Linked DNA regions of Homo sapiens. The protein of the gene in region 5 purifies or fractionates together with the protein of the main gene of each other region. This does not show direct contact. Each region holds a gene or a part of one and is shown on either strand. Other genes may lie near its edges.

Evidence for each region.
Region 1: the proteins of SERPINA12 (region 5) and MIA3 purify together in Homo sapiens (co-immunoprecipitation; 3 studies listed by BioGRID and IntAct, with this or other methods). This does not show direct contact.
Region 2: the proteins of SERPINA12 (region 5) and SEZ6L2 purify together in Homo sapiens (affinity purification with mass spectrometry; 2 studies listed by BioGRID and IntAct, with this or other methods). This does not show direct contact.
Region 3: the proteins of SERPINA12 (region 5) and PNPT1 purify together in Homo sapiens (co-immunoprecipitation; 3 studies listed by BioGRID and IntAct, with this or other methods). This does not show direct contact.
Region 4: the proteins of SERPINA12 (region 5) and TXNDC15 purify together in Homo sapiens (co-immunoprecipitation; 3 studies listed by BioGRID and IntAct, with this or other methods). This does not show direct contact.
Region 6: the proteins of SERPINA12 (region 5) and KIAA1549 purify together in Homo sapiens (affinity purification with mass spectrometry; 2 studies listed by BioGRID and IntAct, with this or other methods). This does not show direct contact.
Region 7: the proteins of SERPINA12 (region 5) and UBR2 purify together in Homo sapiens (co-immunoprecipitation; one large-scale study listed by IntAct). This does not show direct contact.

What each region holds. Positions count from the first base shown.
Region 1 is NC_000001.11:222,652,597-222,656,096, reverse strand, and holds part of MIA3 (transport and Golgi organization protein 1 homolog isoform 1 precursor), read right to left. Parts: intron 3,090-3,500; coding exon 2,967-3,089; intron 2,870-2,966; coding exon 2,758-2,869; intron 1,855-2,757; coding exon 1,799-1,854; intron 1,709-1,798; coding exon 1,618-1,708; intron 1,443-1,617; coding exon 1,304-1,442; intron 1-1,303.
Region 2 is NC_000016.10:29,893,051-29,896,550, forward strand, and holds part of SEZ6L2 (seizure 6-like protein 2 isoform 5 precursor), read right to left. Parts: intron 2,811-3,500; coding exon 2,671-2,810; intron 2,411-2,670; coding exon 2,209-2,410; intron 1-2,208. UniProt on the Homo sapiens protein: May contribute to specialized endoplasmic reticulum functions in neurons.
Region 3 is NC_000002.12:55,641,845-55,645,344, forward strand, and holds part of PNPT1 (polyribonucleotide nucleotidyltransferase 1, mitochondrial precursor), read right to left. Parts: intron 2,877-3,500; coding exon 2,793-2,876; intron 1,582-2,792; coding exon 1,475-1,581; intron 1,370-1,474; coding exon 1,314-1,369; intron 1-1,313. UniProt on the Homo sapiens protein: RNA-binding protein implicated in numerous RNA metabolic processes. Catalyzes the phosphorolysis of single-stranded polyribonucleotides processively in the 3'-to-5' direction. Mitochondrial intermembrane factor with RNA-processing exoribonulease activity.
Region 4 is NC_000005.10:134,894,871-134,898,370, reverse strand, and holds part of TXNDC15 (thioredoxin domain-containing protein 15 isoform 1 precursor), read right to left. Parts: intron 2,078-3,500; coding exon 1,947-2,077; intron 1-1,946. UniProt on the Homo sapiens protein: Acts as a positive regulator of ciliary hedgehog signaling. Involved in ciliogenesis.
Region 5 is NC_000014.9:94,502,970-94,506,469, forward strand, and holds part of SERPINA12 (serpin A12 precursor), read right to left. Parts: intron 1,254-3,500; exon of another isoform or gene 1,064-1,253; intron 1-1,063. UniProt on the Homo sapiens protein: Adipokine that modulates insulin action by specifically inhibiting its target protease KLK7 in white adipose tissues.
Region 6 is NC_000007.14:138,915,390-138,918,889, reverse strand, and holds part of KIAA1549 (UPF0606 protein KIAA1549), read left to right. Parts: coding exon 1-2,142; intron 2,143-3,500. UniProt on the Homo sapiens protein: May play a role in photoreceptor function.
Region 7 is NC_000006.12:42,661,529-42,665,028, reverse strand, and holds part of UBR2 (E3 ubiquitin-protein ligase UBR2), read right to left. Parts: intron 2,846-3,500; coding exon 2,752-2,845; intron 1,772-2,751; coding exon 1,610-1,771; intron 1-1,609. UniProt on the Homo sapiens protein: E3 ubiquitin-protein ligase which is a component of the N-end rule pathway.

The DNA.
Region 1 (3,500 bases), on a different chromosome or scaffold from region 5:
TCGGGAGACTGAGGCAGGAGAATGGCATGAACCTGGGAGGCGGAGCTTGCAGTAAGCTGAGACCACGCCACTGCACTCCAGCCTGGGCGGCAGAGTGAGACTCTGTCTCAAAAAAAAAAAAAAAAAAAAAAAAGGGAAAGAAAGTCTGGAGATACGTGATTAGCTAGGGGACTGGCATAAAAGATGACAAGGGCCTGAATTAACACAGTGACTTTAGGGGTGGACAGTAGAGTACAAACCACACATGGAGACTGAATGAATTTTGGGGAAGTTGAATAAAACACTGCCACATCAATGGGTTAACTGTATCACGAAGAAAAACAGTTGCCATTTACGTAATTCACATTACTATTGGAGGCAGAGAAGTGCTCTTTTTTAAAAAGTAATGAAATGAGGAATGTCTCTCTGAAGCAGGACAGGCATTTATTTAGAGCTGGCCTGAACAAAACCTGGAAAATCTAAACTGGCTGCCTGGTGAGCAAAGAATTAGAGAAAAAGTTAATGGTATGGTTTCAATATTTAATGGCATACAGCAGTAGCAGTCTAAGCATTTAAAAAAGTTAAATTTGCTTAGCAAGAGAGGCCTCCTCACACACTGCCATATACACCAAAGAGTAAAACATAAGAGCAAACACAAATAGCAACTGCCACAGATAACCTATTTTTAGAGAATTCAGATGTTTTTGTGGACAAAAAACTTGAACTATAAAAATATACCTCTCAAAAGGTACCTCGCTCGAAATTTGAGATATGTATTTCAGAGGATTATTATCTAAATATACACACCAAATAGTTCTACATTCAAAACTCCTAATATCTTTGCCACAATTATGTTTAGTTTGAATATTTTACTCTGTGAAGTCCAAAACTAAATGTACCTTCAATAAGTAAATTTTCCTTTTTTGAAGTTTTTATTCTACTAAAACACGTCATACAAATCCCTCAGACTGTTTAAAGGAAATTACATAATTGACCACAAAGAAAGGAAAGTGAAACAAGTGGCGGAGCCACAGACAAGGCATGGCCAGATCTTCAAAAGAGAAGCACTCCCACAGCAGCGACCGTCAGTACCAGTACACTGCTCCCCCTTAAGTGAGTTACAGGCAACAGTTTTTGACTACTGGTTAGAAAGGAAAGAAAAATGCAGCTTATGAGAAACAAAGCAGAAAGAAAGAAAGACAAATTTATACTAATTACAGATGCAAAAGAGTACAATCCTGAAAAACGATAACATTATCTATATTAGTACACATTTATTTACTGACATGACAATACAGTTAACAGTAAATGATGATAATCTTACTTTTGCAAAGCCATCTCCTTCTGCTGATAGAGCTCATTCAGAATCTCCACTTTCTGCCTCAAGGTTTTGCATTCATCTTCCAGTCCAGCTTTGGCAGCTTGTAGTGAGTTGCGGTCATCTTCCAATTTCTTTACCTGGTCTGTAAAGGATAAAACATTTGAGTTCCATATGTGTGCACAAGAACTTGAGAACTTGGTTGGGGGCTGGTGCTGAGAGAAATGAGAAGTATGAAAGCAGGAAGCCGCTCTTTATCTTTCTAATGCAATTTTGTATCTTTCCAATATATAGCAATTTCTTCTCAAGAAGCAACCTACCTTCCAGGTTACATTTAGTGGACACGGAGGCTCTTAGCTTAAGCTGTAAAAGCTTTAGATCCTCTTCAACTACCGATATTGCAGTCTGTGTCTAAAAATTGCAGAAGAGACAAGTATTCATAAAAGTGAGGCATAGTAAAAGTATTCACAGGCAATTATGGGACTCTAAAAACGATTATACCCGAGAGACATCCATCATCTGCTTAATTTGATTTTTCATCTTCTCATTCCGGTCACCTAAAAAACAAAAGGCTTTCTTTCATTGCTTTTTCTTCCCTTGCTTTTTAAATCTATATTTTCTTGATTTACCCAAAACTAAACAATTGTCATGTTCAAACATTTAAAGAACAAACAAAAACAGAAAAGGATTAGACTGACTTTTAAGAGAACTGCAAACTTAAGACTGAAAAAGTGAATTCCCATTTGTACAATAAACATGTTATACATGCCATTATTGAGCAAGAAGAAACATGTGAGATAAAGCTCTTTCTTCCATCTGGGCTTAGTGTCTTATTCAGAAAGATTCCCTCCTATTCTCCTCCAGAATCTACTACCAGGTGTGGTTTAAAACACCCACTACACAAGCAATATCCAACTTGAGAGAGGGCATCTAGAAACATTTTCCTCATCAGTAAACACTGCAACACTATAGCCTCCACTCTCATGGCCTTAGTTTATGGATCCAACCACCTCAGTACTCTCAAAACCAGTTGTGGTTTTCTTTCATGGCCTTAGTCAGTTTATGCCTCCAACCACCTCAGTACTCTTAAAACCAGTTGTGGGCCTTAAAACCACACAGCTACTGAGATGACAAGTTTTAAAATGTTATCTCCATGAAATTGAAAAACAAGTTTCTACTACTGTATGTGTCCAATACTTAGAGGTGTAAGACATGACCAGTGCAGCTCCCGTGCACCCTTCTAGTCTCAATGTGAAAACAAAGTCAGTGTTCACTGCATGCTTACTGCTACACCTCACCCTAGCAATCCACCTCTGCCCAATGCAAACAGACACACATTCAAATCCAATGTATTTACACCTCGAAAGCTTAAGAGGAAATGCAGCCAGCTGAAAAGTAGCACTGGTGCACTTAAAGACAGGAAGGCAAAAGGGGTCCATCCTCCTTGAGGCTGATCTTACCTCCCACTTCTCCATTTGCTAATTCATCTGAATCATTTCCACCTTTATTTTGACCCTCAGATTCAGATTCACACTCTAACAGATTCAACTGTGTAATGCAGTTAGTCAAAGCCTAGAAAAGAAGTAAAAGGGCATTAAGAGTCTTTCCATTTAATTCAACAGATTTGATAATTCACAAGAATTAAGCTTGTATTCATGAACGCACTTACATTAATATTATCATCCTTGTGAGTAAGAGCTACTTCCAAATCTTTCTGAGACTTCTCAAATGATTTGATTTGCTCACTGAGCTCAGCATGTAATTTACTCCAGTCTTCGATTTCCTGCTGCAACTGCAAAGTTAAAACACATGATTCCCACAGGTTAGGGCTTTTGCACTGGAGACATTAGGACCACATGAATGAGACAGGTAAATAAGGAACCATGCCTCTCCTTGGCCTATCACTATGGGCTAAGACCTTGGTTAAGTGGGAGGAGACAGTGGCCCCAACCCTCAGAGCTGTAGTGAGAACATCAGAGCTATCAAGGAAATTGATCTTGTTTATTGCATCCTTCAGAAAATTGTAGCCAATTCAAATAATTCACTTCCAGAAGGAACAGAAGGGCTCATCCTACTATCTCCCAAGTCCACACTCCTGATCATGTAACCTTCCCTTGGCTAGTGAAGCAGTAACTACTCAAAGGAGGGTTATAAAATATCTAACTCTTGGGTCTAAAAAGCCAATCTACTACCCACTCGAGGC
Region 2 (3,500 bases), on a different chromosome or scaffold from region 5:
ACCATGGCTCACGCCTGTAATCTCAGCACTTTGGGAGGTCAAGGCAGGAGGATTTCCTGAGGTCGGGAGTTCGAGACCAGCCTGACCAACATGGAGAAACCCCGTCTCTACTAAAAATACAAAGTTAGCCGGGAGTGGTGGGGCATGCTTGTAATCCCAGCTACTCAGGAGGCTGAGGCAGGAGAATCGCTTGAACCCGGGAGGCAGAGGCTGCGGTGAGCCAAGATTGCGCCATTGCATTCCAGCCTGGCCAACAAGAGCAAAACTCCATCTCAAATAAATAAATAAATAAATAAATAAAATTCAAATTAGGAGGCCTGGCGTGGTGGCTCATGCCTGTAATCCCAGCACTTTGGGAGGCCAAGGCGGGTGGATCACTTGAGGTCAGGAGTTCGAGACCAGCCTGGCCAACATGGTGAAACCCCATCTCTACTAAAAATACAAAAATTAGCCAGGCGTAGTGGCAGGTGCCTGTAATCCCAGATACTGGGGAGGCTGAGACAGGAGAATCATCTGAAGCTAGGAGGCAGAGGTTGCAGTGAGCTGAGGTCATCACCACTGCACTCCAGCCTGGGCAACAAAGTGAGACTCTGTCTCAAAAAAAAAAAAAAAAAAATTCAAATATCTGCCTGTCACACCTGCAGGTTGAAGTAGTCTGGACTGCTTACTGAAGCAGATAAGGCTCTTTATGGTCTGAATCTGACCTGCCTCCCAGCCTGGTCTCTGGCCCATTTCCCCTTCACCCGCTTCTGTGCTTTGAAAGTAATAGCAGTGACTGACAGTTTTGAGCTCTCACTGTGTACCACACGCTGTTTGTGTTTTTGTTTGTTTGTTTTTGAGACAGAGTTTCACTTTTGTCACCTAGCCTGGAGTACAATGGCGCAATCTCAGCTCAATGCAACCTCCGCCTCCTGGGTTCAAACAATTCTCTTGCCTCAGCCTCCCAAGTAACTGGGATTACAGGTGCTTGCCACCATGCCTGGCTAATTTTTGTAATTTTAGTAGAGATGGGGTTTCACCATGTTGGCCAGGCAGGTCTTGAACTCCTGACCTCAGGTGATCCACCAGCCTTGGCCTCCCAAAGTGCTGAGATTATAGGCGTGAGCCACCACGCCAGGCCACACACTGTTTTAAACACTTGACATGTATTAATTCATTTGATCTTCCCCATAATACTAAGTATTGTGATCCCTATTTTTCAGATGAGATCATGAGGCACAGAAAAGTTAAGTAACTTGTCCCAGGTCACACAGCTAGGACAATTCTATCTTCCATGCTGAATTCCTTCACCTCATCTGGGGGTCACGTCTTCTCTCTCTGGGTCTTGGAGTGTGCTTTTTCATCCACTTAGCCATCTGCCTCCCTCCTTCTCTCCCTCCCTCCCACCCTTTCCCTGGCGAATTTATCCTTCAGGTCTCAGCTTAGTCATCATCTCCTCCAAGAAGATGTCCCCATATTCCTTGGGAGAAATTTAGGTCCCTTGGCTATGTGCTGCCCCCGCTGGTGTTTCTGCCATCATATTCCTTATCTCCTTGAATTATAACCATCCTGATTACTCATCTGTCTTCCTACCTAGATTCTGAGCTCGTTGAAGCCAGATTTACACCTGGTTTGTTCATTCCTCCTTCAAGGCTAACACAGGGCCTGGTATGAAGCAAGCACTTGATAAACATTTGTTGGATTCAATGGATGAATTGTCCCTCGGATGTGTGCACAGATCTGTGAGTGTGTGAGATAAGTATGCATGGGTCTCCTCTGAGGGCCCTGCCCCCCAGGGTCGCAGTCAGGAGGAAAAGCCCCCTTCGGCACCCTGTGCTTCGATGGTTCTTAAAGATGTCCCCTCTATAGGCCGGGCACAGTGGCTCTTGCCTGTAATCCCAGCACTTTGGGAGGCTGAGGCAGGTGGATCACAAAGTCAGGAGATCGAGACCATCCTGGCTAACGCGGTGAAATCCCATCTCTACTAAAAATACAAAAAATTAGCTGGGCATGGTGGCGGGCGTCTGTAGTCCCAGCTACTTGAGAGGCTGAGGCAGGAGAATGGCGTGAACCTGGGAGGCAGAGCTTGCAGTGAGCTGAGATCACGCCACTGACCTCCAGTCTGGGCGACAGAGCAAGACTCTGTCTCAAAAAAAAAAAAAAAAAAAAAGATGTCCAGTGTATGCAGTATGGCCCCTGCCCTTCCAGCAGCACCCTCAAACTCCTCACCCTGATAGTGGATCCTGAAGCCACCGCCCCTTGGGACCCGTGGGCTCTGGAAGTGCAGAAGCAGCCGGTTGGTTGGGCTCCGAAGGACTTGTCCTTCTCCAAGCATGGATGAGTTGGCCAGGAGTCGGGGGGCCAGGCCTGGGGATCCCCCACCAGCCAGCACCAGGAGCTCCTCTTCCTGTGACAGGTTCAGCGTCTGCACCTAGAGAAGCCAGACACAGACCCGCCAGGGCAAGTCAGCCAGGTGTTTGACTTCCAAAGCCCCTGTCCTGTGCCTTTGCCCTGTGTGTAGCAGCCCAAAAGGCACCACGCTGCTGCCCAAGTTGTAGAAATCTAGAAGAGTTTTTGAGGTCACCTGAGTCATCAGACAGGTTCTTTGGCTCCCAGGCCAAACCCGTGCACACCCACAGCCCAGAGGAAAAGGCTTGGAAGCTGCACAGTCACATGCTTTGGTCCAGTTACCTGGATCTCAATGCCGTAGCCAGGGTAGACATGGATGCTGTAAGTGCAGTCCAGGAGCCCCAGGGTGCGGCTGACGGGGCTCCCCAGATCTGGAGACTCCACATACCCTTCGCCCTCGGAGATGTTGTTATTACACAGAACTGAGGAGATACAAATGGCTGGGATGGAAGGAATGCCTGTGCTTTTGCCCTCCCAGCCAAGCAACTCTGGCCTTCATCTCCCTTCTCCTTAGCACTTCTCATCATCTTTTTGTTTTGTTTGAGACAGGGTCTCGCTCTGTCACCCAGGCTGGAGTGCAGTGGTGCAATCATGGCTCACTGCAGTCTCAAATTCCTGGGCTCAAGTGATCCTCCCTCCTCAGCCTCCCGAGTAGCTGGGCCCACAGGTGCACATCACCATGGTGAGACAATTTTTAAAACTTTTTGTAGAAATGGGGTCTTGCCACATTTCCCAGGCTGGACTCAAACTCCTGGCCTCAAGCGATCCTCCTGCCTTGGCCTCCCAAATCACTGGGATTACAGCTGTGCGCTGCTGTGCCCCCCTCACCATCTTTTATTTTTTTATTTTTATTTTTTTAAGATGGAGTTTTGCTCTTGTTGCCTAGGCTAGAGTGCAATGGCTGGATCTCAGCTCACCACAACCTCCACCTCCCGGGTTCAAGCAATTCTCCTGCCTCAGCCTTCTGAGTAGCTGGGATTACAGGCATGCGCCACCACGCCTGGCTAATTTTGTATTTTTAGTAGAGACAGGGTTTCTCCATGTTGCTCAGGCTGGTCTCGAACTCCCGACCTCAGGTGATCTGCCCGCCTGGCCTCCCAAAGTGCTGGGAT
Region 3 (3,500 bases), on a different chromosome or scaffold from region 5:
GCTTTTTTTTTTTTTGAGATGGAGTCTCGCTCTGTCGCCCAGGCTGGAGTGCAGTGGTGCGATCTCATCTCACTGCAACCTCTGCCTCCCGGCTTCAAGCGATTCTCCTGCCTCAGCCTCCTGAGTAGCTGGGATTACAGGCATGCACCACCATGCCTGGCTAACTTTTGTATTTTTAGTAGACATGGGGTTTCACCATGTTGGTCAGGCTGCTCTCGAACCCCCCACTTCCTGATCCACCTGCCTTGGCCTCCCAAAGAGCTGGGATTACAGGCGTGAGCCACCATGCACAGCCGAAATTGGATTTAAAAATATGTGCCAATTAAGCATTCAGATATGTTTAAAATAAGCCATCAAAAGAAAAAAAAAGAAATAAAGAAATATTGCTAAGTCTATTTTGGGCCTATTTAATATTTACTGGGAAAATTAATTTGGGGTTTCACCAATTACTAGTAGAAAATTTGGTTAAAGAATTCAGTTGGCCGGGCGCGGTGGCTCAAGCCTGTAATCCCAGTACTTTGGGAGGCCGAGGGGGGCGGATCACAAGGTCAGGAGATCGAGACCATCCTGGCTAACAAGGTAAAACCCCGTCTCTACTAAAAATACAAAAAATAATTAGCTAGGCGTGGTGGCGGGCACCTGCAGTCCCAGCTACCGGGGAGGATGAGGCAGAATGGCGTGAACCCGGGAGGCAGAGCTTGCAGTGAGCTGAGATCGCACCACTGCACTCCAGCCTGGGTGACAGAGCGAGACTCTGTCCCAAAAAAAAAAAAAAAAAAAAAAAAGAATTCAGTTAAGAGAACCTATCATAATTAGAACCACAGAACTGCTACTTTAATTTTATAAAATGATATAGAAAACAAAATATACTATACCTTAAAAAATAATGATTATATGGCAATTGGCATGTAATCTAAACACCTTATGATTTCAAAGTAAATGTAAAATTAAATTGGGATTATAATAGGAATCTGTTAAAAACCAAAACAGGGCTGGGCACGGTGGCTCATGCCTGTAATCCTGGCACTTTGGGAGGCTGAGGCAGGAGGATGGCTTGAGGCCAGGAGTTTAAGACCAACCTGGGCAACATAGTGAGACCATGTCTTTACAAAAAAATTAAAAAATCAGCCACGTGTGGTGGTGTGTGCTTGTAGTCCTAAATAGGAGGCTGAGGTGGGAGAACTGCCTGATCCCAGGAGTTCAAGGCAGCTGTGAGGTACAATGGCACCACTGTATCCCACTGTGGGTGGCAGGGTGAGACCCTGTCTCTAAAGAAAGGAAAATGCTCAGCATAGTATATTACTTGATATTACCTGATTTCAGTTATTGTGGCGGTATATACTGCTCCAAATTCTAATTGCTGCTCCTGCTGTAAGTGCAAAATAAGCCATAAGATTCATAAAGAAAACATCAACAAAAAGTAGAAAAAACAAATATAGCTATATGATACGTAATTAATATGATCTATACTTACATCATCCTTGCAGATTTCAGTAATGAAGTCTCTTGCCTCATGCATAGCACTGGGTGTTGGTGCAAATACAGAAAACGTTTCTTCATCCACCTGACTAATAGTTACACCTTTTAAAAACAAAATGTAACATATTAAAGTTAACTTGGCTGGGCATAGTGGGTCACATCTGTAATCCCAGCACTCTGGGGGGCTGAGGTGGGAGGATCACTTGAGCTCAGGAGTTCAAGGCCAGCCTGGGCAACATAGGGAGAGCCTGTTACTACAAAAAATAAATTCAAAAATTAGCTGGACCTGGTAGCATGTGCCCACCTACTTGGGACTCACAGTCGGGAGGATCACTTGATCCCAGGGGTCAAGGCTGGAGTTAGCTGTGATTGTGTACTGCACTCCAGTCTGGGTGACAGAGCAAGGCCCCATCTCAAAAAAAAAAAAAGTTAACTTGCTCATTCCAGTGGAAACTCGTCTTAAAAATAGATGTGAGAATAGGAGGGACCTATTAGTAGCTGGGTGGAGTTATGCTGTATTTAATCATTACTTTAGGAATGAAGGAATTCATTCATCAACAAATACACTCTGCATACTTGCTAGGTACCTGGCATTATACTAGGTAGGCCCTGGGGATACAATGGTGAGCCAATATGCTTGATTTCTTGAAATTCACCATCTAGTGAAATCAAATATATCTATACAAATTTTGGAGAGTCTGGTTCTGCTCTCTTAATTACGAGTAGAAACTATAATAGAACCCTTTCCTTACTTTTTTTCTTTCTCCCGCTTACTCTTACGAGGGGTGAATAAATGAATAAGGGACAAAATCACATCAGTTTCTCAGTGTTAGCAAATGGCTAAGGTGACAGTGCTTCTCACTCTCTTGCAGTAACCTCAAACCTTGAAGTACGAGGTAATTCAAACATTGCTTCAGGAAAAATAAATTAAAGCTTTTTTTTATATACTCTTTAAATAAAAGAGTTAAAATAAAACTAAGTGAAAGTAGCAGAATAAAAAGAAATAACTAAGTAATAATTCCTCTAAAGTTAAAAACTAAAAATTATTCTAGATGTTCAACTATAAAATGTTGCAAAAAAGTCCTGATGAATTCTTTGTAATCCTTCTTGAATTTAGTTAAGAATGACCATTTGCTAATTTATTAATAGGCACACAGAAAACTCACAGTCAAGACACGTCATATCCTTTTCTCCTGGTCTTTCTCTCATTTCTCAAATAAATATATATTTAAAGCAACATACTAGAGATGAAATAGCAAACTTTTATGGTCTAGCATTTAATTAAAAAACCCCAAACTTCATACAACTCTTACCTGTTTCAGCCTGAAGTTTTTTTAAGTTATAGCCACCAGGTCCAACAAATTTTGCTCGTTTTGATAATGGAACCTGAACAGTTTCTGGAACGTAATACAGACAAATATATAAACAATTCAACTACATACATGAACCTAAAACATGCCATGGTCACTTGAGATTTTTTTTTTTTTTGACCTAGACACATGTAAAAATATTTTACTATAAAACAGAAAAGTAGATGATTAAAATTACTGAAAACTGTTAAAGAATATTCCCTAAAATTTAAAGCATTTTAACTACAAAAGTATTTAAAATATTTTCGTTTTGTGCACTGGGTAAAAACAATTTAAAAGCAGTAATATTCATTCATATATTAATGTTTATCTTACCATGATCACTAAAATTTTTTTTTTTTTTTTTTTGAGACGGAGTCTCACTTTGTCGCCCAGGCTGGAGTGCAGTGGCGCGATCTCGGCTCACTGCAAGCTCCGCCTCCCGGGTTCATGCCATTCTCCTGCCTCAGCCTCCCGAGTAGCTGGGACTACAGGCGCCCGCCACCACGCCCGGCTAATTTTTTGTATTTTTTAGTAGAGACAGGGTTTCACCGTGTTAGCCAGGATGGTCTCGATCTCCTGACCTTGTGATCCGCTCGCCTCGGCCTCCCAAAGTGCTGGGATTACAGGCGTGAGCCACCGCGCCCAGCCGATCACTAAAATTTTAATGTA
Region 4 (3,500 bases), on a different chromosome or scaffold from region 5:
CTTTACAATGTTTTACAAACAATAAAAAATAAGGCCATATGTTTTGGCAAATATTAAGGAACTAAGATAGCATCTACAAATGGATTAATAAATGGAACAGTAGCAGCAAAGAAAAAGAACAAAACATAACCATACATGACAATGCAGGTGCATCTCACAAGCATACTGTTGGATGAAAAAAACAGACACAAAATAAAACATCCTGCATGTCTCCATTAATATGAAGTCCAAAACAAGTAACACAGTCTATGATATTAGGAGTCAAGACTGTGGTTATCTTTATCTTTGGGGAAGGCAGGAGCAGTGGTGCTGAAGGGAGGCTGGTAATGTTCTGTTTCTCTTTTTTTTTTTCTTTTTTTTTTGAGACGGAGTCTCACTCTGTCAACCAGGCTGGAATGCAGTACTGTGATCTCAGCTCACTGCAGCCTCTGCCTCCTGGGCTCAAGCAATTTTCATGCCTCAGCCTCCCGAGTAGCTGCGACTACAAGCACCCACCACCATCCCCAGCTAGTTTTTGTATTTTTAGTAGAGACAGGGTTTCGCCATGTTGGCCAGGCTGGTCTCGAACTCCTGGCCTCAAGAGATCCACCCGCACAGGCTTCCCAAACTCCTGGGTTTACAGGCATAAGCCAGTGCTCTGTTTCTTGATCAGAGTGGTTACCCAGGGTGTTCACTTTGTGAAAATTCATCACCCTGTACACTCATGACTTATGCATATCTTTGTGTAAATATTAAGTGAAAAATGTGCGTTAAAAGTTATAAGTAAAGTGTATGGTATGTGAATTATATTTCAGTAACACTTGTTTTAAAGTATCTATAATAGGCCAGGCACGGTGGCTCACACCTGTAATCTGAGCACTCTGGGAGGCCAAGGCAGGCAGATCACTTGAGGTTAGGAGTGCAAGACCAGCCTGGCCAACAGGGCGAAACCCTGTCTCTACTAAAAAATACAAAAATTAGCCAGGTGTGGTGGTGCGCACCTATAATCCCAGCTACTAGAAAGGCTGAGGCAGGAGAATCGTTTTAACCCAGGAGGCAGAGGTTGCAGTGAACTGAGATTATGCCATTGCACTCCAGTCTGGGTGACAGAGCGAGACTCCGTCTCAGTCAATCAAACAATAAAGTATCTATAATAGACCGGGCACAGTGGCTCACACCTGTAAAATCCCAGCACTTTGGGAGGCCGAGGCGGGTGGATCACTTGAGGCCAGGAGATCGAGACCAGCCTGGCCAATAAGGCGAAACCCTGTCTCTACTAAAAATACAAAAATTAGCTGGGCACACGCCTGTAATCCCAACTACTCTGGAGGCTGAGGCACGCAAATCACTTGAACCTAGGAGGCGGAGGCTGAAGTGAACTGAGATCATGCCACTGCACTCCAGCCTGGGCAACAGAGTGAGACTCTGCCTCAAAAAAAAGGAAAAAAAGGCTGGGTGCGGTGGCTCACGCCTGTAATCCCAGCACTTTGGGAGGCCGAGGTGGGTGGATCACGAGGTCAGGAGATCGAGACCATCCTGGCTAACACGGTGAAACCCCGTCTCTATTAAAAATACAAAAAATTAGCCGGGTATGGTGGCGGGCGCCTGTAGTCCCAGCTACTCGGGAGGCTGAGGCAGGAGAATGGCGTGAACCCGGGAGGTGGAGGTTGCAGTGAGCCAAGATCGCACCACTGCACCCCAGCCTGGGCGACAGAGCAAGACTCAAAAAAAAAAAAAAAAGGGAAAAAAAAAGTATCTATAATAATTAAAATTACCTATTCATGTTAAACTTCATACTGATTGGGAAGTATTTAACAGGATCATAACAGTTCATTAGAAGAGAAGTTTTACAACTCAAAGTCAGTCTTGAATCCTTCACTTAAGGATTATAGCAGATCAGAACCCACAGAAGGCACAGACCCCCAGCAATAGAATATCTTCTTCCTCAGCACATTACTTCCACATACCTGTCTGATTAAAAATGAAGATTTTCAGTGTTTCCAGTGTTCGATCTGTATGATTAAATCTGGCCATTGGTTTAGCTCCTTGAAATAATAAAATATTAGGAACAGCTACGGTGCCAAACCTGGTAGAAAGGCTACAAGAGAAAGAAGTCAAAAAACCTGAATTTATTATTAATAGAGGGCTTTCTCATACAATTACCATCTCAGAATAGACAGAAATAAATGAGGAAGTTGCGTGTGACCTACGGAGATTTCTGATACTTGAAACTTTTGGCTTTTTCATTTGTTTCTGACCTCTTTGCTTATGGGTCATGGCTGGGGGGCACTCCTTTTCTGCAATCTGAGTTGCTTTCAATTATAATATGGATCTACCAATGGCACAATTATTCCACTAGTTAAGTTCCTGTCTAAACAAACCAGACCAGAAAACTCTAATTCATGGACAAAGCACACTGTGTCAACTTATTTGACAGAAAAAATTTCCAACTCTTCAGAATGCCCATCCCTGTCCCTCAAAAAAGATCAACTTACAGTAGGCAATTGGTTTGGTAAGCTGGCACAAGGGAGTATATGATCTAACAAACACACCAGGATGTTCACAATTAGGGCAGGATGACTTGTTTAGAAGGAATATAACTGTGCGGGCTTATTTCACCTTTACATAATACAGACTAGTGGTGATAAGCTCCCAAGTCAAAACACTCTGGGTTGAAGCCTCAGTTCTGCCACTGAACCAATGTGAACTCTGGGCAGATTATTTAACCTTGCTAAGCCTCAATTTTCCGCATTAGTAAAATAGTAATAGTGTATAACCAGGATTTTTTTCTTTTGTACACATGCTGTAACTTAAATATTAACATAAGAAGCAAACATGTCCCAGCCCATATAATAACAGCAAGAGCCTTAGTCTCCATAATTAAGATACAACATGGAGCTGAAGGAAGGAAAGAAGAAAGCAGGTTAGGGAGGGAGTTGCGGGAGAGGCAGGAGGGACAGTGTGAGACCCAGAACCAAAGAGCACTGAGTATGCCTGGGGGCAGTGGAGGCCCCACCAAAGCTGGACACTGACGTGATCTGTCCTTCCAATCAGTCTGCTCCCTTGGGCCCAGTCACTTAGATATAACCCAGAAGCCTATATGAAAATTACTAATTTGTTGAGCCATTTCTTTCTTCATAAAAGTTTCAGGTAAACATTGGCAGTTATATTCCCACAATGAAAATCAGTGGAATACAATTTTTTTTTTTTTGAGACAGGGTCTCACTCTGTAGCCCAGGCTGGAGTGCAGTGACAGGATCACGGCTCACTGTGACCTTGACCTCCCCTGGTTCAGGCAATCTTCCCACCTCAGCCTCCCAAGTAGCTGGGGTACCACAGGTATGTGCCACCATCCTCAGTCAATTTTTTGTATTTTTTTTTATAGAGATGGAGTTCTGCCATGTTGTCCAGGCTGGTCTCAAACTCTTGGGCTCAAGCAATCCTTCTACCTTGGCCTCTCAAAGTGATGGGATTACAGGTGTGAGCCACTGCACCTGGCCTCAAGTACAGAGTAATGGAAG
Region 5 (3,500 bases):
TAAACCCGGTGCCCTTCTTTGGGCTGAGAAATCTGAGGAATCCTTGCTAAAGGTGTGCCTTGGCCTCCCAACAGAAGACCCTCACAAGAGCCCTGCACTTGAAGAGCCACTTCAGGCCTGCTCTGTGGCTCACCTGTTTTAAAGGACTGATATTGCTTTAAGAAGAAATCACTCTATATACATCAGAAATTAAATTATTATTTTTAAAAGCACATTTAGAACTAAGTGGTGGTAAGACATATCTTCTCTCCCCTGTTAGAAGTAAGAGAAGCCCCATAAACAAACTCTGATGACCACAGCAATATACTTTCTCCTCCTTTCTGGAAAACAAAGAGTGGAGAACATGTCCCCATTCCACTTGTTAATTTGCCCTGTAGATTTCTGCCTTCATTCCTTAAGAAATATGTTTGAGTCCTCACTCTGTGTCAGGCACTGGGGCACTAGAGCAATGCCCAGGAAATGGTCCATATTGATGCTGCAGACTGACTCTCAGCCCAACAAGCCCCACAGCCTTCTCCAAACCCTCAAGAACCTTCCAGCTGTTTGCCTGACCTGGTCCTCCTCCCCTTCCGTGACTGCATTCTAGGAGGAGGGGTATGTGGGTTGGAAAGGCTGAGAGATCATTGACTTCAGGACTATCTGTGCCATAAAGAGGGAAATGAGGCCCAGAGTGGACAAAGGAAGAGATTGTGGTTGCAGTGTGCATCAGTGGTGAAGGCAATTCTGCAGAAATGCATTGAACAGGCTGCTTCGCCTCACTTTCTCCATGAACCAGTGAGTTGATGGATCCAGCCTCTATCCTCAGAGAGAGATAAAGATTCACAAACAGCTCACACACAAGGATGACTGTGGCCAGCATCATGCAGCAGGGGTGGACCCAAATTGGAGGCACCACTTATGTCCCAAGACTTCTCCCATCCCCACATTCATGAAGCTTCTCTCTCTAGAAAAGCACTGGGCAGTAGACATCCATAACACTCTGCCAAAGATGTTCAACAAATTCTTCAAGAGGGGTTTACCTGGATTTTGGAGATCCTCTAGAATTTTCCTTTCATACACCCACCTGTGGACAGTGCTACATCCTCCCTCGATCTGAAGCAAGCTTCGTGTGGAATAGACAAGAAGCACCGGATCTTTTGGAAGGGAAGGTCTCATACTCACAGTACATTCAGAAGTCCACTGAGCCAGCCAAATGCATCTGCCTTTCTTGCTTTATTATTTATACTTCCATGGCCTCTTGGAAGAGTAAGGCCAATACAATGAGCTGGCGTGTATGGGCAGGTGATGGAGGCTTTGGAAGCAATGGCCACACCACCTCCCTGGGAGCTCTCCCTGTGGAGGCAGCGGCATGATATCGTACCGGCCACACCCACTGGGCTGTGGCTTCCCTAATGAAGTCCACTAGACACCTTTTGCAACGACTCTATTTCCCAGTTGCTCTCTGGGTATGGAAGCCAGAATAGTCTACAAGTAGATGAGCCTAGAGTCCTAATACTGAATATTCAACCCAAGTATCATCATTGCTGCCCATGGGAACAGGTTGATAACTGGGCTTCTTGGGGTCATTCCCATGTATCCCTCACCATTTTCTTTTGCTATTTTTTCATGTGTTCCAAATTAGCTTAGCTCACATGGAGTCCTTTGGGGAAAAAGTTCGAGGACAGACAAATAGACAACTAAATGCGTAGATTCCGTTAGGAAGAACAGGAATTAAAAATTCACCTCAAAGTTCATGATCATGGAAATTACAAATTGTTTTCCTATTGCACATTTGTTGTGCTGGAGTGGTGAGACTATGGTTGGGTTCTCTTGTGCTGGGGTGATGAGACTATGGCTGAACTCTGTTGTCTCTGCCTCCCCCTTACTTTTCTATATTTTCCAAATTGTCTTTAAAAAACAGATATTACTTTAGGATTAATTTTTCAAAGGCTTAAAATAAAATAAAATAAAATTCTTATCTTCAGTTTTACCACTTGGAGAGAGAAGCATTGAAGATGTCTGGGAACATTCCAAACCCACTGATGCTGGGATGGAAGAGCAATAAGCTCAACATGCCTATCTTCAATTCTGCTTAATCTAATGAGCTCCAGTGAGCAGAAAAAACATTCACATATTTCTTCCCCATTGAGTGGTGTTTCACAGTAGGTCGTATCTGATCGAAACACCTCGGAGGCCTCGGAAGAGCCATGGGTGTTGTTTTCCCTTCCTTTGGGTTGCTGCTTTTAGCAAAGACATGACTCTCATTCCCAGAGCTATTCAGAGCAGGTGACCCAGACAAACCTTCTTGGAAAGAGGAGACACTAGTTCATTCCCAGGCCTGGTTCAGCCACAGACTCTATGCACTCAGGGCCTAGATGAACAAGGACATGGGGATATGGGTTCCAGAGCTGCCCAGATCAGAAACCACCCCTGAAGATGCCCCTGAGCCACCACCTTCCCTCGCCCAGGCAGCAAGGCCTGCCTGCTGGGATGCATGGGTCAAAGACACCATGTGAACGGCGAGATGAGAGACTTCACACTGGCCGGCTCTGGTCACCAAGGGGTTGCAGAGGAGACAGAAGGACAGGCTGAGACCAAGGAGTACAGGTGGTCCTATTGTGACTGTAGAGGCTATAGTGGTGGAAGATCAGAGCCAGTGAGGTGGACACTGACCCAGAATCCAGGTCTGTACATCTGGTTTGGGAGGGAAAACCTGCCCTCTAATGACAGGGTGAGGCCTGTGTGAGTCTGAGGGCCATGCCTCCCTGCCTGCCCCAGACACTCTCTGCTCCAGGGTAAATTTCCACGGGAGACATGCAGGAAGAGGCCAGGGTAGGGATGCCCACTGAGCGACACGGGCAGCACTGGGGATGCCTGAGTTCAGACAGTGCCAGAGGCCAGTAGGCCATGGGCAGAGGGTAGCCACAGGTGGGCTGCCGGCCAGCCAGGCGCTACACCTGGGTTGGGAGTTGCCTGTCCTGCCTGGGGAAAAGAGCCCCGGAGGAGGTGCACGTCTGTGGAGAGCAGTGAAGGATATAGGCATGGGAGGGAGCAGCCCCCTTCACGTGCCCATTAAGGGACCTCAGCCTAGACTTGAGGCTGCCCCGACTGCCTGTAGTTAAGATTCAGGTCCCATGGATTTGTGCCTGGTGTTCATCAGGGGCTAGAAGGATGAAGGAGATTGTCCAGCCTGGGAAGATTATTGTTATAAGTTAATGGGCCTAAGGCACTGGTCGGAGGCTGAGGGGTGGCCTGAATATTTTTTACATTATTGCCATGTGTAGGGGTGAGAGGGGAGCTAGGAATTTCTGGTCCTCATCCTCACTCTTTGGATCTCCCAGATGGAAGAAACATGTTAGTGACCATGCCACACCCTAACTCCAAGAGCTCTGGTCTGATGGGAACACAGAACACAGAGATACAAGTCACACTAGGTAAGGGCCAAGGTAGAGGTAACTCTGGGAGGTGAGAACACACAAGAGGCACCTGATCCTAGCTGGGGTGCTCTGGACTGTGTCATA
Region 6 (3,500 bases), on a different chromosome or scaffold from region 5:
CTGGCAGGAATTTGGTGCTTTATCCTACTGATGCTTACAGTCATTTATCAAGCAGGACTCTGCCAGAGATTGTGGCTTCCCTAACAGAGGGTGTGGAAACCACCCTTTTTTTAAGCTCCCGGTCTTTAATGCCACAGCCGTTAGGCGACGGCATTACTATACCGTTGCCCTCCTTGGGGGAGGTCTCACAGCCTCCAGAGGAGGTTTGGGCCACAAGTGCAGACAGATACACTGATGTGACCACTGTGTTGAGTCAAAGCCTAGAAGAAACCATCTCTCCAAGAACATACCCCACTGTGACTGCATCGCACGCAGCCCTTGCATTCAGCAGGACACATTCTCCATTGCTTTCAACTCCTCTTGCATTTGCGTCCTCTGCTTCACCAACTGATGTTTCATCTAACCCCTTTCTCCCTAGCGACTCCAGCAAAACATCCGAATTGCATAGCAATTCAGCCCTCCCCGGTCCTGTGGACAACACTCATATCCTGAGCCCGGTGTCCTCATTCAGACCATACACTTGGTGTGCGGCCTGCACTGTGCCTTCACCTCAGCAAGTTCTGGCCACGAGCCTCATGGAGAAAGACGTGGGATCAGGGGATGGTGCCGAGACTCTGTGCATGACCGTGCTGGAAGAAAGCAGCATCTCTCTAATGAGTAGCGTCGTAGCAGACTTCTCTGAATTTGAGGAAGATCCTCAAGTATTTAATACGCTTTTCCCCTCCAGACCTATCGTCCCACTTTCTTCTAGATCCATGGAAATCTCAGAGACGAGTGTTGGCATTTCTGCCGAGGTGGATATGAGTAGTGTTACAACCACACAGGTTCCCCCTGCCCACGGCCGCCTCTCTGTGCCGGCGTCACTTGATCCTACTGCTGGCTCCTTGTCTGTTGCTGAAACCCAAGTGACGCCATCCAGCGTGACCACTGCATTTTTCTCGGTCATCACCAGCATTCTCCTTGACTCATCTTTCTCTGTCATAGCAAACAAAAACACACCGTCGCTTGCCGTCAGAGACCCGAGTGTTTTTACGCCTTATAGTCTGGTTCCTTCAGTGGAGTCTTCACTTTTCTCTGACCAAGAACGTTCCAGTTTTTCTGAGCATAAACCCAGAGGTGCTTTGGATTTTGCATCCAGCTTTTTCTCAACACCCCCGCTGGAACTCAGCGGCTCCATCTCTTCGCCTTCGGAAGCACCTGCGTCTCTGTCTCTGATGCCGAGTGACTTGTCCCCCTTCACATCTCAGTCTTTTTCTCCCTTGGTTGAGACATTTACATTGTTTGACTCTAGTGATCTGCAGTCATCTCAGCTGTCTCTTCCCAGTTCCACAAATCTTGAGTTTTCGCAGCTCCAGCCAAGTTCCGAGCTGCCTTTAAACACCATCATGTTGCTACCTAGCCGTTCTGAGGTGTCACCATGGTCAAGCTTCCCTTCTGATTCTCTCGAGTTTGTTGAAGCGTCTACGGTTTCACTGACGGATTCAGAAGCTCATTTTACCTCAGCTTTCATTGAAACTACCTCCTATCTTGAGTCTTCACTCATTTCCCATGAATCCGCAGTCACTGCACTGGTGCCCCCCGGCTCTGAGTCTTTTGACATTTTGACTGCCGGGATTCAAGCAACATCACCATTGACCACTGTCCACACAACGCCCATTTTAACTGAGTCTTCTTTGTTCTCAACTCTGACACCTCCTGACGACCAAATCAGTGCTCTAGACGGTCACGTGTCTGTCCTGGCCTCTTTCTCCAAAGCCATTCCCACTGGTACGGTGTTGATCACTGACGCGTACCTGCCATCAGGATCCTCGTTTGTTTCTGAAGCAACCCCCTTCCCTCTGCCCACAGAGCTGACCGTCGTGGGCCCATCACTCACACCCACAGAGGTGCCACTGAACACCTCCACGGAAGTGAGCACAACCAGCACCGGTGCTGCCACTGGTGGTCCCCTCGACTCCACCCTGATGGGTGACGCCGCAAGTCAGAGCCCCCCAGAGAGTAGTGCTGCTCCTCCCCTGCCATCCCTGCGTCCCGTGACTGCCTTCACTCTCGAAGCAACAGTCGACACACCAACACTGGCTACTGCCAAGCCGCCATATGTTTGTGATATCACAGTCCCCGATGCCTATCTGATCACAACTGGTAAGGCCCAGCTTCCTGCCGCCTCTCTGGGGTGGGCAATCTTTCTAAGGAGCTTGTGTGCAGTGCCTGTGAGGCTTGGAGCTTCATGGTTAAGAGCAGAGGCGCTGGGCTCAGTTAACTCCCAGGTAGTACTCCTATGCTTACCTCCTGCGAGTTCTCAGAACAGTTATTTATCCTCTCTAATCGTCTGCTGCCTCACCCATTAAACAAGGAGCTTAGTTAAACCTGCTTCATTGGGCTGTTGTTCAGATGTAAATGCGTTAGTCCCTGCAGAACGCTCAGCCCTTGCCTAGTACATCAGAGGCATGCACGGGATGGTGCATATTAGTCAGCAGTCACAAGGAGAATAAATATTAGAACAAATACAAGAACTAAACAAGCCTTGGAAGTTCTTGGTAGGATCTTTGTCCTACCATAACCCAGTAGGTGCATGGATGACATAGTTTAAACAAAATACTTTTTTGTTTAATTCAAGCAATGAGTTGGGCAACTATGTAAGGGCAACCCTTGCAATTTCTTACTCATTTACTCTTCTTACTTTTCCTTGAAAGGAGACTGCACTTTGCTCTCATAGGTCCCTGTAAATGCCCCTTGGGTCCCGAGGAAAGAAAAGTAAAGTGACTCTTTGCTCTTATAGGTCCCTGTAAATGCTCCTTGGGTCCCGAGGAAAGAAAAGTAGTGACTAAATATCCTCTGAATCCAGTATCAGCCTTTGGTCTCCTCCCCACCACAGCCTGGGTTGCTAGCAGACTGGCCAGCAGCTTCCCTTGCAGTTGCATGGCTGCTGTGGCCGCGTGAAGCTGGTGCCCACCTGAGGGCATGCCTGAGAGGTAGACTGATTTCAAGGGTCATGTCCCGCGACGGTGGCCCGCTTGGTCAGGGTCTCTGCATTTTTCCTCATGAGACATGACAGGTGTATGTGGTCTCGAGGGTCATGACTGTGTGCTGAACCACAGCCTGGTGGTGACGAGCAGCCTGTCCTCTGTTTTGATTTTGGTAGGAGTGGAGGACAGAAATGAAAAAGGGGACGAAAACGGCAGAAGAGGTAGGGAGGAGTGGGGTGGAGTGGACCGGGAAGGAGAGGAGCAGAGAATGTGGAAGGGGGAGAAGGAGGAGAACACGCTGGGTCTTTTCCTCTCTGTGGTCGGGGTTGCTGGGAGCCTCTGCTCACTGTGACAGTGCCACATCCCTCTGGGCAGGTGGGAGCGAGGATCCTGATGGCAGGTACACGTCAGTGATCAACACCCTACCTGTGGGAATGGCTTTGGAGAATGAGTCCAGGACAGCCTTTGCTCCCCACACGCCAAAGGGAAACATTCGTTATTCCACATGGCAAGTAATGATTGAGCACCTAGTAT
Region 7 (3,500 bases), on a different chromosome or scaffold from region 5:
TTGTTTCAGGTTGTATTATTATTTGCATAGGTTGTATTCCTATATTTTGTAATAGGTTTTATTATTGTCCCCATTTTACAGATGAGGAAACTGAGGTTTAGAGCTATGTAACTTGACTAAGGCCGAATAAGGGACAAAGCTAGCATTCAAACTTGGCTCTGTCAGATTCCAAAGCCTGTGTTCTTTTTATGATTGTATTCGAATATGACTAAACCATAATTGAATCTCATGGGCAAAACCCAAAAATTGGACCAATAAAGTGACAGATGAAATCCAACAAGGGTGATTTCTTCTTATACACAGTTAATCCTCCATCTAACAATAATTAATTTCTTCATCAGTTCAAATGCAGATAAGTCAGTACCACGATATTCTTTTATAATTAAAAAGCATGAGCTTACACTCAAATCTACTAATATTTTAAGAACATTTTGTGGTAGCATAGACTAAGAACACCAAAGTTTGAACTCCTAAAACTGACAAGAAAAAACTGACTTTGCTTTGAACTGAATCCAAATAACACAGAAATGGATCGTTTATACTCACATAACTTAGTATTTGTGCATGCAACGTAGATAGCATAATTCTACATTGAGAAATGAAGTTCAGATTCGAAAAGCAGACATTATCAAATTCATACTCGAAATGAGTATGTCCAATACTCGTAACTAAAAGCATCCAAAAAACTGTGAAGTTACAGAAATTTTCCATTTTCTTTTCTTATTTTTTTTTAGTCTGCTAGACAAATTCTAAAAGAGCTAAAAATATGGAACACTTCATGAATTTGTGTGTCATCCTTGTGAAAGAGCCATGCTTATCTTCTCTTTATCGTTCCAATTTTAGTATATGTGCTGCTGAAGCAAGCACTTATTTTATTTTTGAGACAGGGTCTTGCTCTGTCACTCAGGCTGAAGTGCAATGGCATGATCAAAGCTCACTGCAGCCTTGACCCAAGCGAGCCTCCCACCTGAGTCTCTGAAGTAGCTGGGACTATAGGAATATGCCGCTACATCCAGCTAACTTTTTATTTTTTGTACAGACAGGGTCTCACTATGTTGCCCAGGCTGGTCTTGAACTCCTGGGCTCAAATGATCCTTTCATCTTGGCCTCTCAAAGTGCTAGGATTATAGATGTGAGCCACAACGCCCAGCTGAGATTTTTCCATTTAAAATATACCAACAGATTTTCACTTTTTTGCCTGGTTCTTAAAACTATGAATGGCCAGTACAGCAAAAAGTTTTATTCGATTTTTAGACTGTCCTATAAAGTCAGTTTGAGTTGTTCCATCTCCCTCTACCAGTTTACTGAGCATCTCTTGAAAAGTGTATGGAAGATATTAAAAGTAGGGTCCCTAGAAATAAACCAGATACTTGGTTTTCATAAATACATAGGAATTTAATAGCTTAGAAACTGTTAAATTTTCACCTGTTCCTCTCTAAAAACTAAAATCACATTCCACAGGTCTGCTAGAAGAAAATGATTAGAGTTTGGAAAGTATCTGGAAAACACTATGCAATTGCCTAGACTAAGTTTTCCTCCTTGATTTATTATTTCATTATCTTCAAAGCAAACTATTGCTTTGTAATAGTTGTCATGAGCCAAAACTTACTTGTTAAAAATATTTCTTGGAGGAAGCAGCAGAGGAATAACAGTATTACTCAAGCATTCACAAAGGGGGCAAAGGAATTCTCCGTTTTCTACATCATAGCTCGTATGTAAGCGTAATCTCTGTTGCCTTCGCTGTTCTTTAGCTTGAACGGAATCAAAATACCTTTACAATTAGAGAACATGAGGTATCAAAACAATGGTAATTTACATAAATGACAGCCATAAGCTTCAACATTTAAAATAATTTGTTTCCACAAATAGTTCAAAAATGAAAATCTTAAACTAAATTATTTTTAACATGATTTTTGAGTGATTTTAAAAATCCAAATGGATTAAAAGTTCTAAAAGAGTAAAATAAAAAAAAAGACTGCCATGTAAAAAAGCATTCACAAAGCAGCAACAAAAATTTCTTGGTGTCATTGTTCTCTTGCCACTTCCCCAAGGCTGGTGGCTATTTGTTTTTTTTTTGTTGTTGTTGTTGTTTTTGAGATGGAGTCTTGCTCTGTCGCCCAGGCTGGAGTGCAGTTGCACAATCTTGGTTCACTGCAACCTCCACCTCCCACATTCAAGCAATTCTCCTGTCTCAGCCTCCCAAGTAGCTGGGACTACAATGTGGTGGCTAGTTGTTAGGGGTAGTTCATGATAACTGGGTGAGCATAGTTCTAGAATAATAGTATTATTGATTTGTTGGTTTTGTAGAAGCATAGGAAACACCAAGGTAGAACAAATTCAGGACATCTCATCACAGGGAGCCATTACAATTTTGGGAAGTAACAAAGCAAGTACTAACATCTATGGAATCAAAAGTTGTCCACCCTGGACCCAAAGAAAGACAACATTACCCTTCTAGAGTTTATCCTACTGTAAAAACCCTTTTCTTCATCCACAGACTGATACAGATCCACTTCCTTCTTTGGAAGATATAGAAGAGACTTGGATATAAAGCTAAATTAAAAAACATATCTGACATACACTTTACATCTATGACAAGGCAAATAACTTTTGTTATTTATTAGGCAATGATACGGATTTTTTCAACATTTTTAGTTCTTTTCCTTTTTTCTAGAATGAAATTTCCTCTATTTAAAAAATATTGAGCCCTTAGATAAACTTCTCTTGACAAATATTAAGAATATACATTACCTTTGCCAACAATGGGCATGCATAATGTGCCCACAGCTACTAGTGTGTGTTCCACAAGACAGATCAGGGTGCATGAATAATGGATCATATTTTTCTGCATTACAAAACAAAACAAAACAAAACAAAAGTGAAGCATTTAATTTTCCTATAACAAATGTGTAACTTTAAATTGTAAAATCCTTGATAAAGACTTGAAATTTGAAATGAAATGCTAGTTTATTCCTCTGAGATACCAATTTATGCAACACCTTGGATTATTTAGAAAGTAGGACTCTCTAATTTTCACCACCCACAGCAAATTAATTAAACATTCTCAAATTGTTAAACTGAAATTAGAACTATGAATTTAAATATATCCAATCTTTTGAACATTTCACACTTTCAGGGTGCTGAGATATTCCAATTCCTCCCATTGTACCCTGAGCTCCAGGTAAAAGAGCTACTCTCTTCATGGGGCTGCCTTATGTGCGTTCAGGGCAGCTGGGTTAAAATGATCGCTAATAAAAAATGTTTTGGCAGTAACGGGGCGCCCCCTAGAGGACAGACTGCCTAACAACACTCATACAGCGAATAATCACATCAGAGCCAAAGTGACAACAAAAAATCTAAGCACAGACCAGATCAGATGGGGGGAAAAAAGGTAATTCAGAGTCTTCTGTCCTGGTGCTAATTTTTATATTCAAAGGGGATGAAAAATCATGAAAAACAAGATGGATGTCTGGCTTCTTTTGGAATTTTTGAATTCTTTA